2 linked regions of the Homo sapiens genome follow. The protein of the gene in region 2 interacts with the protein of the main gene of each other region in a pairwise test. Each region holds a gene or a part of one and is shown on either strand. Other genes may lie near its edges. The genes, in order: KCNJ6 and MAP1S.

Region 1 (3,117 bases), on a different chromosome or scaffold from region 2:
CCATAGTAAACATTTTGGGCCTTAATATAATGCCATTTTATTAGGAAAGACAAATACAATGAATTATCTTATGATTAATAATGAAAAGTGGCCACTATTTTCCATTACTGGTATATAACTAAAATAAAGCAGTAGTGCTACGGTTAAAATAAATCAGCTTAATTAAAATATTATGGTTTAAGCTTTTTGCCTCCTTAATTATCCTGTCTGGTTTAGTTTTTGTTTTGTTTTTCTGACTGGGGCCCTAGGTGCATGCTTTAGGGAGGGTAGAGCTGGATTTGGGTTAAAAGCAAATTGTCAGTAGCCTGCTGGAGCTGAAGGAATTGCTCATGGATGAGCTGGCGAGATGCAGCCTCACATTTATTTTCTATCAATGATGCTGACCTTCCTTGGACATTTTTCTACTGCAGAGAAGACCACAGTGCATGTCCAGTAGCACCTCATTTATCTAGAAGGCACCTACCTCACAGCTCATCTCTCTGCTACCGGGTTTAGTGGTGGTAATGACAGGGGAGCAGGACGTGGTCGGTGGGTGCTGTTGGAGACAAGTGTGTGGCTGGTAGTTAATTTCCCTGCTGCCAGCAAGGGAATCAGTTAAATGATGAAAACAGCTGAGACTTAAAGCTGAACCATCTGGGGTCATTTAGTGTAGAGGTACAGTCTAGAACTGATGGTGGTGTAGGTTGGAATGGATACTAGAATTATTAAAGCAGAGACTATGGGGTTCAAATGTTTGTTGAAAAAGATGAGGAAACTACAGCAGATTAGTCTTTTTGCTTAAGCTTGCATGGAATGTTCATCAAGTTAGACTGCATTCTGGGTCATAAAACATACCTTAACACATTTAAAAGAATAGAAATTCTCAGATCACTTGGGATCAGGAGTTCAAGACCAGCCTGGCCAACATGCTGAAACCCCATCTCTATTAAAAATACAAAAATTAGCCAGGTTTGGTGGTGGGCACCTGTAGTCCCAACTACTTGGGAGGCTGAGGCAGGAGAATCGCTTGAACCCCGGAGGCAGAGGTTGCAGTGAGCCAAGATCATGCCACTCTACTCCAGCCTGGGCAACAGAGTGAGACTCTGTCTTAAAAAAAAAAAAAAAAAAAAAAGGAATACAAGTCCTACAATGTTTGCTCTTAGATAACAATGGAATTAAGCTAGAAATCAGTAACAGAAAGGTAGCTGGAAAATGCCAAAATACTTGGAGATTAAACAACACACGTGTAAATATCATGGGTCAAAGAAGAAATCTCAAGATAAGTGAAAAAATATTTTGAAATAAATGAAAATAAAAACATAGCTTATTATAATTTGTGGGATGCAATAAAAACAATGCTTAAAGGGAAATTTATAACATTGAATGCAGATAGCACAAAAGAAGATCTGAAATCAATCATTTAAGTTTCCATTTTAAAAAAGTAGAAAAAAAGAGCAAATTAAACCCAAAGTAAGCCAATGAGAAGAAATAATTAAAATTAGATTAAAAATTCACGAAATTGAAAATAGGAAATCAATAAAATAAATAGAAACAAAGTTGATTCTTTGAAAAGATCAATAAGCTCCATAAGTCTCAAGGCATGCTAACTAAGAAAAAAAGAGAAAGAACACAAATTACTACTATCAGAAATGAGAGCGGGGACGTTACTAGCAATCCCATGGAGGTTAAAAGGATAATAAAAGATAATGAAGGAATTTTATGAATGACTTTATACCCACAAATTTGATAATGTAGATGAAATGAACCAATTCCTTGAAAAATAGAATTTGTCAAAACTCACACAAGAGCAAATAGACAATCTGAATAGGTATATCTCTGTTAAATAATTTGAATCAATGGTTAGTAACCTCCCCAACCAGAAAGCACTTGGCCCAGATGGGTTCACTGGTGAATTCTACCAAAGACTTAAGGAAGAAATGATACTGATTATCTACAATCTCTTTCAAAAGCTAGAAGCAGAGAGAACACTTGCTAACTCATTCTATGAATCCAGCATCACCTTAATACCAAAACCAGACAAAGACATTACAAGAAAACTACAGACCAATACCTGTCATAAGCATAGATGCAGAAATCCTCAACAAAATATTAGCAAATCAAGTCCAACAATATATGAAAATAATTAAACACCATGACCAGGTGGAATTTGTCCTAGGTATATAAGGCTGGTTCAACATTCAAAGATCAACTAATGTAATGAATATCAACAGGCAAAAGAAGAAAAATTGCATGATCATATCAACAGATGCAGAAAAATCCAAACAGTCTTTCATGATAAAAACACTCAGTAAAGCAGGAATAGAGGAGAAGCCCCTCAACCTGATAAACAATATCTAAAAAAAAAACCTTACAGCTAACATCATACTAAATGGCGTGATGGTGAGAAACCTGAAGCTGTCTCACTAAGATCAGGAAAAAAAAGGTGTCCCCATCACTACTGCTTTTCAACATGATACTGGAAGTCCTGGCTGATGCAATAAGACAAGGAAAGGAAATAAAAATATATAGATTGGGAAGAAAGAAGAAATAAAACTTTGTCTTTGTTTACAGATGACATGATCATCTATGTAGAAAATCTGAAATAACTGACCAAAAAACAAAACAAAAACAAGCCCCAGAACCTTCCTGGAACTAATAAGGGATTATAGCAAGATTTTAGGATTCAAAGTTAATATACAAAGTCAATTGTTTTCCTATATACCGGCAATGAATAAGTGAAATTTGAAATTAAAAGCACATGATTATTTAAATTAGTATCCCTTGAAATGAAGTACTTAAGGTATAAATCTAACAATATGTATAAGATCTACATGAGGAAAACTACAAAACTGGTGAATGATATCAAAGAAGAACTAAGTAAATACAGAGATATTCCATTTCATGGAGGGACTCAATATTGTCAAGATGTCACTTCCCAGCTTCCTCTGTAGATTAAATACAATCCCAATAAAAATCTCAGCAAGTTATTTTGTTGGTACCAAAAAACTGAGTCTGCAGTTTATATGGAGAAAGAAAGCTACAGTACTCAAGACGATGTGGTGTTGGTGAAGGAATAGACAAATAGATCAGTGGAACAGAATGGAGAGCTGAGAAACAGACCCACACAAATATAGTTAA
Region 2 (3,092 bases):
CAAAGATCCTTTTTCAAAATAACATCACATTCACAGGTGTCAGGGGTCAGGTGTTGAATGTGTTTTGGGGGCTGGCTGCCATTCAACCCAGTACAGATGACATTGTATCTAATAGTAAACCTAAGTGCTTGTATTTCTGCAGAGAGGGGTCAGGGTGCATTAGTCAGAAGTGGATATTCTGTAATCTCTGGGTTTCAGATTCCTCTGTAAATCCTTCCTGCAGAGTAAGACTTTCTGGAATAAGCATCCATCTCCTCTAGGGACAGCAGGATAGCTTTTGTTTGATGGCTTTGGAGCAGAGACAGGTATTCAATCTCCCCCTGCCACCAACTGGTTTGTGTGACAGATAGTCAGGTAGCTACTTCGCGCCTATAACTTGGGCCCCTCACAGTTGCTGAGTCGGGATGGAGGCCATAGTCAGGAGCTCCACCGGTCAGTGGTCATTAACTCTGAGAGGCACTTCCTTCCCCAAACCAGGCCCAGCGAAGCCTGCATTTCTCCCATCTGCGACATGGAGGCCAGAGTGGGCCTGACCGCAGGGTCACTGGGGATTCCATGGAAGCTGTCCCCACCCGCAGGACCAGGAGGTACATGCCAAGTCTCCCATCACAGAAAGAAGAGAGGCCACAGCCAAGTGTAGTCACAGTTTATTTCTGATGTGGCTGAATCTAGGGACAGGCGGGCTGGGCTGAGTGGGGGGCGTGTCGGCGATGGGGCTAGAACTCCACCTTGCAGGCCGGGAAGGCGTCATCCTGCATGGACACCATGCTGTTGCTGCCCAACACCGTGATGCCCAGCGCCTGGTGCCGGGCGTGCGTCTCTGCGTACCACGTATGCATGGCCACCGAGTCGAAAGTGGGGATCAGGGTCACCTGCAGGTGGAGGGGGGGTGTGTGGGGAGAGTGGACCACCAGTGAGGGGGGTGCCCCCTGCCCTTCTGGCCTGGGCCCAAGTCGCCTTCCTTTCCTGGCATTTGAGACCCCTCCTGGCTTTTCCCTGATCTTGTGTGCTCCACCTTGAGGTCTGCAATGGGTGGTCAGCCCGTCTGTGAGGTCCCTGTTCCTCCCAACCAGCACCCAAAGAGCCTTCTCAGCACACAGGAGACGGAGCTCCTCCTCTGCAAGGCCTTCCTTGGCCTGAGACCCCTCTCTACTCACTTGGATCTCCCCCTGCTCCTTGAACACACCAACCTCTTTCCTACCTCTGGGCCTTTTCCTGGGTCGTGCACCCTACAGGGACACTCCTTTGAAGCCAGCCTAGCAGCTATGAGAGGGCAGGGGCCGCGGTGTGAGGCGGTCCTCCCTCTGCCCACATGCACCTCGCCCTGCAGGGCTTGGTTTCAGTCTCTCAGCTTCATGCAGCCATGGGGGAGGGTTCTCAGCCGCACAGATACCACCCAGCCCACCTATTCCATCCCGACTAATTCTCACAGCGGAACAATGGCTAAGTGACAAGGTGTCTGGGGAAGGGATAGAACCATGAGGCTTCACGAGGCCCTGCGTCCTCCCCCAGGCTTCCAGCACAGCCAATGACAACAGTGACACGACAGAATCAGAGTCCGAAGAGACCCCTAAGGGCTGAGCCATGTGAGACTCCCACATTCGCCCCCATTCCCGTGTGGCCTGGGGAACACAGCTTAGTCTCTGAGGGTCGAGGGTGGTTTTACCCATCTGTGCTAACTACACTTACCACCAGAGGCCCTGGGGTGACACGCACCTGCAGGTCACGGTCCCAATGCTGCTTGCTGGCCAGTAGCGCGTCCAGGACGGCCCGCATGCCTTCCTCCTTGCGCTGGTCCTGGCCACTGATGACGTAGCAGAGCGCGCGCACGCGCTGGAAGAACTCCTCATCCACCAGGTGGGCGCTGCTCCCGCTGGGCAGGTAGGCCAGGTCCAGGTAGACCGGGGACTTGGGTGGGGTGGCTGACACCCCGGGCCGGCTGCTGGCTGACCCTGCGGGCGGGGGGATGGGGAGGCAGGGATGAGCTCCTGGGGCTGGGGAGGGGCCGAGGCTCCAAGTTCGACCTGCACCACTCAGAGCAGCTCCCTCCTCAGCAGGAGGCCTGAACTCAGAGTTTTCTGGGGAGGCCTGGTGCGCTCATGACTCCAGTGAATCTTATTTTAAGAAATGGGGTCTCGCTATGCTGCCCAGGCTCGTCACAAACTCCTGGGCTCAAGTGATCCTCCTGCCTCAGCCTTCCAAGTAGATGGGACTACAGGTGCATGTCACCACGCCTTGACTCCAGTGACTCTTCACTCACTCTACAAACACCACCGGCCACCCCTTTGTGCCTAGAGCCTGACTCATCCCCAGCCAGTCCCTGGACATAGACATCCCCAGGGCTGGGGGGCGAGTGGGTGGCAATCAGGGAATGCTTCCTGGAAGAGGGTTTAAGAGTTTGAGCCCTGAAAGCAGCCAGTGCCTGGACCATCTGCTGCTTCTGCAGCATTTGTCTGGTTCACTTGCTCAAGGGGCATTTAACAGAACCTCATGGGCACCAGGCCCTGAAACAGGGCTGTGACCAAGACAGACAGAATCCCTGCCCCAAGGGTGATGGGGAGCCAGGGTGGGTGGACAGAGCCTTGAGAGGCGGGCCCAAGATCACTGCGGGATGCTGGATGCGGATGAGACAGCAGCTCTGGGGGCCTTGTCCAAACCCTGACCTTAGGGCCAAAGGGGACAAGGCCACCAGCCCTGGGCAAGTGAATGATCAATGAAATGAAAGGATACGGCTGGGTCTCGGGCACAAGAAGCCTGCCAGACCCTGCATCTTACAATCACAGCTGCTGCCCAGCTCAGGGGGTAAGAGTACTACCCCGTCTGTATACCAACAAATGCATACCCTCAGCCGAAATGGACACATTCCTAGAAACACAAAAACTACCAAGACACAATCACAAAAATAGAAAATCAGCACATACCTGTAGCTAGCAAGGAGAATGAATCAGTAACTTACGACCTCCCAACAAAGAAAAGCCCTGGGGAAGCCACTAAACATTTAGAGAACTAACATCAGCCTTTCTCAAACTTTTCCGAGGAACTGAAGAGGAAGGAACACTTCCTAACTCATTTTATAAGACCAGAATTGTCTT

Evidence for each region.
Region 1: the proteins of MAP1S (region 2) and KCNJ6 interact in a two-hybrid assay, tested with the Homo sapiens proteins (one large-scale study listed by BioGRID and IntAct).

The regions. Positions count from the first base shown.
Region 1 is NC_000021.9:37,609,510-37,612,626, forward strand, and holds part of KCNJ6 (G protein-activated inward rectifier potassium channel 2), read right to left. Parts: 3' UTR 1-3,117. UniProt on the Homo sapiens protein: Inward rectifier potassium channels are characterized by a greater tendency to allow potassium to flow into the cell rather than out of it.
Region 2 is NC_000019.10:17,732,053-17,735,144, reverse strand, and holds the end of MAP1S (microtubule-associated protein 1S), read right to left. Parts: intron 1,953-3,092; coding exon 1,717-1,952; intron 879-1,716; exon of another isoform or gene 873-878; coding exon 717-872; 3' UTR 632-716; downstream 1-631. UniProt on the Homo sapiens protein: Microtubule-associated protein that mediates aggregation of mitochondria resulting in cell death and genomic destruction (MAGD). Plays a role in anchoring the microtubule organizing center to the centrosomes. Binds to DNA. Plays a role in apoptosis.